2 separate regions of the Homo sapiens genome follow, and region 1 is linked to region 2. The links come from fine-mapping of genetic effects on gene expression. A gene starts in region 2. The other region holds a variant in brackets. All regions are shown on one strand. Distances are from middle to middle.

Region 1 (2,899 bases), 60 kb before region 2:
AAAACTAAAAATATTAGATATCTTTGTGGGTGGTTCTGTGAAGAAGATAGCGAGTACAATGCAAGGCTGATGCTGGGGGTGGGGACGTGTCTGTGTGTCTCCTGTGAAGCAGACAATGGATTTGACCCATTACATTAGACGCGGAGAATGCCATGATGCAGCCACGGTGCAACGAGCAAGACGCAGAGCAGCTATGGATCCACAGGCAGAGGCACAGCCCTCCCACTCGACACCAGCTTCGTCTCCTCTTCCCACTCTTAGTGGTCCCCCTGCCCCGACCTCACTGTTGCCAGGATAACAGTGGCATGGTGGGGCTTGGCACTAGAAGCCCAACCCCAGGCCAAGAGGCAACTGGCCTCTGGCTCTGACTCCCCTCTCCCCTACCAAGCGCCTATAAGAACAGGGCTCAGGGTTGATGACACCTTGTCCTAATAGCAAAAGGTCTTGGGGGAAACAGTGACCAGGCTTGGGCAAAGGTTACAGAGGAAGAACATTCAGAAAAGCAAGAGATACAATCCAAGCTTAGGAAATGGCAGCCTCCCAGTGTCCCAAGCTCCGGGGCTCCCAGGAGAGGGGCCTGACGCTTGTGGTCAATGGGCGGTTCTTCCCTGTAAGACCGGCATGAAGGAAAAACACCATCCCTAGTAACAGGTGACCCTGCACGTGGGTTAAAGCAGAAGGAGAGGTGGGGAGAGGCAGCTGTGTCTCTGTGCAGTCCCCCAAGACCTGAATGGAAACCCACCCAGCGTCCACCTCAGCTGTCTCCCCAGGATCCCAAGGGTGAAGATGGGGATGGCTTTCTACCCTAGACCCTGTGCAGTCTGCCCTGGGCTCTCCCTCTACGTGCCCTGGCTGCAGCATCCTCCTGTCTGAGGGTGGGCACTGTGGACAGTCCTCACCTCCGAGGGAGGACCAGGCACAGGGCCAGTTAACCACACAGGACGCGTGTGAAGGAAGCATAGGCCTGCCCCTGTCATCCCTCCATCTTCCCACATCCTCCGTCAACCATGTTCCGATCCCTGGGAAGTGATTCTGAGTATGATTCAGAGAGGCTCAGTTTTGTAGCTCCACCTGGCAGCAGGTGTGTGCTGAGTGGGTTTTCTGGGTGCCGCCTGTTGCCAGGTGGCGGCTGGGGTGCTTAGCAACCCTCAAGGTCCCCAACTAACCCCTGAAGTGTGGTCACATGGGAATAAAGACAAACAACTCCAGTTCTGTCCTCTGGGCCTCCTGCTCTACCCTCACATGCCCACAGAGCCGGGAGGCTGGACCAAGGTCAGCATGCACCCTGGCGGCCCCGCACCACAGGGAAGCGCCATGGCACTGCCTGCGAAGCCAGATATGTG[T/C]TCGGCAGAGGCAAAGAGGACGCTTCGCATGCCAGGGCTGCACCAAGAGCTCCAAATCCACAAGGCCTCAGGGCAGGGCAGGCTCCACTACCTCCCTGAAGGAGACTGGAGCCAGGGAGGTTAAAGCAGCAAAGCCACTGGAATCTGAGACCCTTGCCATTACCCAAATGCTCTGTTGCCTCAATGCACCCTTTGACATGTGGACATGCTCACCCCAGTGAGGAGGCAGAAAGGGATGCCTGTGCTTGAGGGACTGTGCCGCCTCACCCTCCTGGACCATGGCTGGCTGCCCACCCATCTGGGAGTTGACTGTCATTAGGAGGCTGGTCATCTTCATAACAGAAGGTACAACTTCCCAGGGGATGGCAAGAGAGAGAGCGGGCTCAGGTCACCAGCGCATCCCTACACCTCACTTCACAGCAGAGGAGGAAGCTGAGGCCCAGCGAGGAGACACCTGCTGGGACAGCCACATGGCCAGGGCTGCCCTTCAGCCGCACACTCTTAAGGCAGCTTAGAAAACAAGATAAATAGCCGAGCATGGGGCTCACGACTGCAATCCCAGCACTTTGGGAGGCCAAGGCAGGCAGATCACTTGAGATCAGGAGTTTGAGACCAGCTTGGCCAACATGGTGAAACCCCGTCTGTACTAGAAATACAAAAATTAGCTGTGTGTGGTGGTGGGCACCTGTAGTCCCAGCTACACGGGAGGCTCAGGCAGGAGAATCGCTTGAACCTGGGAGGTGGAGGTTGTAGTGAGCCAAGATCGTGCCACTGCACTCCAGCCTGGGCGAAAGAGTGAGACTCCATCTCAAAAAAAAAAAAAAAAAAAGATAAGAGCACCTGACCAAATAAAAAGTGAGACATGGACCCTGGGCACTCAATTCTGGAAGGAGGCCCCTTTTTTGCAGAGGGTAGATTAACGATTGTTTTTATAGGAGACACTCATAATTTTTTTAAATGGAGAATTTTCTTAAAAAAGACATTAAGCACACATGTAAGTAAGGGATGGCCTGCTCTGACACTGACCTCAAATGGCTCTTTGGAGCCACTTCCAAACCAGGTTCTGTTTCCTCTCATACCAGGACTGTCTGCGGCCCTTTCCAAAGTGTTTTTCCATCTATTATCTCATTTTTATTCTCATGAGGAGCTTTTACAGGAGGAAAGTGAAACGGGGTCATGCAGCCTCTAGTACCGGCCTGCACTCAGCTCCGAAGACCCGTCAGCTGATGTTTCTGAAACGTCAAATCAGCCCAGAGCCCACGCCACTCCCAACGTCAGCCCCAATGCCTTGGGAGGGAGTGACCTCTGTCCTGGCTGGAAGAGAGAAGGGGAAGGATGCACAGGCCCCAGCCAGCTCCCATCCTACCTCACCACCCTGACTTCAGCCGGTGCCTCCCCAGGGGCTGGGGGCCAGCGTGACGGCATCTTGGAGCCCCAAAGGGCTTCATGGTTTTTAGACTCCCCTCTGCCTTATTTCATGTGATTCCCAAACTATCCCCTAACAATGGTATTATTTTTAATCCCATTTTCAGAAAATTAAACTAAAGACCAGAGAG
Region 2 (2,899 bases):
CAGGAGCCCGAGTTCCGGACCGAGATTTCATGGGTCCGGCCCACCCCGCGGTCAGGGTCGGAGGGCAGGCTGACGGAGTACTCGGCTGAGTACTCGGCCGAGTATTCGGGCTCGGAGAAGCCCTGGTTCCTCGGCATACTGGCTGGTGTCTGCTACTGGCCCTAGAGAAGTGGACTGGGAACGGAGGAAGAGCTCTGGACTGGGCCTCCTCTCAGGGCTCTCTGAGACCGGGGGAGGGCTGAGGGCCTCTTCTTGTCTGGGGCGGAGGGGAGGCCACCTCCAGCAGGAACGCAGAGCGGGTTTCCAGAGCACAGGTAGCACTGATCAGCTAGAACTGAAAAGGGCATTGCTGAGTAGAAGCACCTCTTCCCTCCTACCTTGCGGTTTCCCCATGACCCGCCCTAACCCTCATAAAAGGATCTCTGCTGCAAGAGCCTCCCAACCCAGGGCCTTCCCTGCCACCCCCGGCTCACACCACCGCCCACCGCAGGCACACTTAGTCCTGTCCACGCCAGACACTCAATTTCCTGTCCCTGGCTTGTGGAAGGGCCTAGCCGCCTTTCCATCCCTGGTAACCGGTTTCTCTCTGTCATCTCTTCTTTCTCAGTCCCCGACTTCCTCACCTAAATTCCCTCCAGGCCCAGTCCTTAGAAGCTGTAAATAAAATGTGCCGGAAAGAAATCAGGACCATCGTGGGGGATTCCTGAGCCTTCCTTCTGTTTACTTCCTTTTTCCACCAAACCCTTGGAGGCTCGGGCTCCGATCCGGCCCCCTTCCCACGCTCGGGGCGCTGTCTTCCCCCCCGGAAGCCTGGCCCTGCCCCTGCGTTTACCTGTGCGGGAACTCGGCCACCGCGTGCTCCGGGACGGTCCCCGCGCGGGCTGGGGCGGGAGAGCTCGGCGCGCCCGAGGGCTGCTCCCCGCAGAGCCGCGCCGCCCCGGCAGCGCCTCGGGGCCCGGCCGGAGCGCGATCTCCCGCCGTCAGGCCCGGGATCCGACCGGGAGAGGCGCAGGGCTGCCCCTCAGCATCCGCGGGCGCCCGGCCGCAGGGGGAAGGAGGAGGCGGCGACGAGGGCTGGGAGATCCGTGGGCGCCGGCCCAGCGCGCCCGCCCTGGGGCTGAGGCTCAGGGGCAGGGGCCGTGCGGGGGCCGGCAGGCGCGGGCGGCGGCGAGCGCGGCTCTCCGGACCCCTCCCCTGCACCCGCGGCGGCGGCGGCTGCTAGGGGCGCGCGCGGGGCCCTCCCCGGCGGGAGCGCGGGCCGAGCCCGGGGAAGCCCGCCAGCATCCTCTCGCCCGCCCGCGCCGAGCCGAGCCAGCCGAGTCCGGGCTCGGCGTGCTGCACAGCTATTCCCCGCGCGGCGCCGGCGGCTCCGGGGCCACGCGCGCTCCAGGCCCCGGGAGGCGGGAGGCGGGAGGCGGGAGGCGGGCGGGGCGGCCCCTCCCTCGCCCCAGTCTCCGCCCTCTCGGCGGCGCGTTCCGGAGTGGGGCGGCGAGGGAGGCGCCGGGCGGCGGTCCCAGGACCCGCGCGGGCGAGAGGTGGAGGGGCCCGGGCGGCCCCCGATCCGGCGCGGGCGGCGGGCTGGGGCGATGGCTGCGTGGAAGCGCGGGCGCGGGCGCGGGCGTGGGCGGTGGGCGGTGGGCGGCAGGGCTGGGGCGAATCCACCCCTTCCAGCGAGGAGGCCCGGTCTAGGAGGATGGAAGCCCGGGACGCGCCCGCCCGCAGGTGAGGCGCGCTCGGGGCACCCCGCCGCCCCCTCCTCCGCCGCGGCTTCCTTCCGGGCCGGCAGAGGCCAGGGCTCAGGTTTGGGGACCGCTCCGCCGCGGGGCACGTGGGGCCTAAGTATCCCCGCCCACCCCGGGAGCCCAGACTCCGGAGCGCCGGGCCTGAGCTTTCCGCAGAGGGGCTCGGCAGCGGAGCCCTGTCCTGCTCCCAGGAGGCGGGTGGCGGTGGCCCGGTGGGCACTACACACGTGGAACTGGAAGAGTTCCTGAGACCCTGCTTCGAAGAGATTTCCCGTGCACATTCTACCCGTTTGAGATGTGTTTGAGTTCACAAACTGTCCCTTAAAGATGCGAATGCTCCTTTGAATAGTTAAACCTATCAGTCTCTTACACCATAGTATAAATTATTTTCCTTGCATTTGACAGAACACCGTGCTAAGATCAACTACAGGCTTTGGGAATTTAAATAAAGGAAGAGGAAAGAGATAGAATGTTTTGGGACAAAAGGGACAAAAGCATGTGTGGGAAGGTAAGTGCTGAGGACAGCCAGCAGCAATAGGGGGTCATCTCCCCTGGGGAGAGCTGAAGGAATGAACAGAGGGGAGAGAAACTTGGCTATCCAGACCCTGGATGGAGCTGCCACCCCATGCCCCTGAGAGTTATCCGCGGGCACCCCTTCCAGAACCTCAGGCATCACCTTGCATCCCTCGGGGAATGGATCCATTAGAGAATCGATCCTGCCACTGCTGTTTCTACCGTTCCCTCACACTCTGTCTGAAAAGGCGCCACCTTCAGCCCATACTTCGCAGGGCTTTGATTCCAAAGGTAGGGGACCTAACATCAGATATAGGAGTTTGGTAATTTAAATAAAGCAAAACTTTGCCCCATTGTTTTATTTTATTTCTATTTTTTATTTTTTCGAGACTGAGTCTCACTCTGTCACCCAGGCTGGAGTGCAGTGTTGTGATCTCAGCTCACTGCAACCTCCACCACCCAGGTTCACGCAATTCTCCTGCCTCAGCCTCCTGAATACCTGGGATTGCAGGCACACACCACCAAGCCCGGGGTAATTTTTGTATTTTTAGTAGATGGGGTTTCACTATGTTGGCTAGGCTGGTCTTGAACTCCTGACCTCAAGTGATCCGCCCACCTCAGCCTCCCAAAGTGCTGGGATTACA

Direction of the effects. Positions count from the first base shown, and alleles are read on the strand shown. Sizes are in standard deviations (SD) of each study's normalised expression.
With allele C in place of T in region 1, the expression in tibial artery of the gene that starts at base 1,387 in region 2 is higher (small effect, 0.37 SD a copy in GTEx).

What was found.
Region 1: its variant is fine-mapped to the expression of ADCY3 in tibial artery (GTEx, PIP above 0.99). The same link has a PIP of 0.9 or more in whole blood.

The regions. Positions count from the first base shown.
Region 1 is chr2:24,859,098-24,861,996 of GRCh38, forward strand. All of the region lies in intron 3 of ADCY3 (adenylate cyclase 3), which reads right to left. Among named protein-coding and RNA genes, the nearest start is that of ADCY3, 60 kb to the right of the region's middle. The variant T/C (reference allele first, on the strand shown) is at 1,344.
Region 2 is chr2:24,918,851-24,921,749 of GRCh38, forward strand. It overlaps ADCY3 (adenylate cyclase 3), which reads right to left and starts at 1,387. Exons shown (of 22, transcript NM_004036.5): 1 at 833-1,387; 2 at 1-334. The coding sequence starts at 137. LOC124907742 (a long non-coding RNA gene) reads left to right here and starts at 1,494. Exons shown (of 2, transcript XR_007086246.1): 1 at 1,494-1,722; 2 at 2,148-2,608. RefSeq lists silencers at 772-1,501, 1,532-1,591, 1,632-1,841, 1,852-1,941.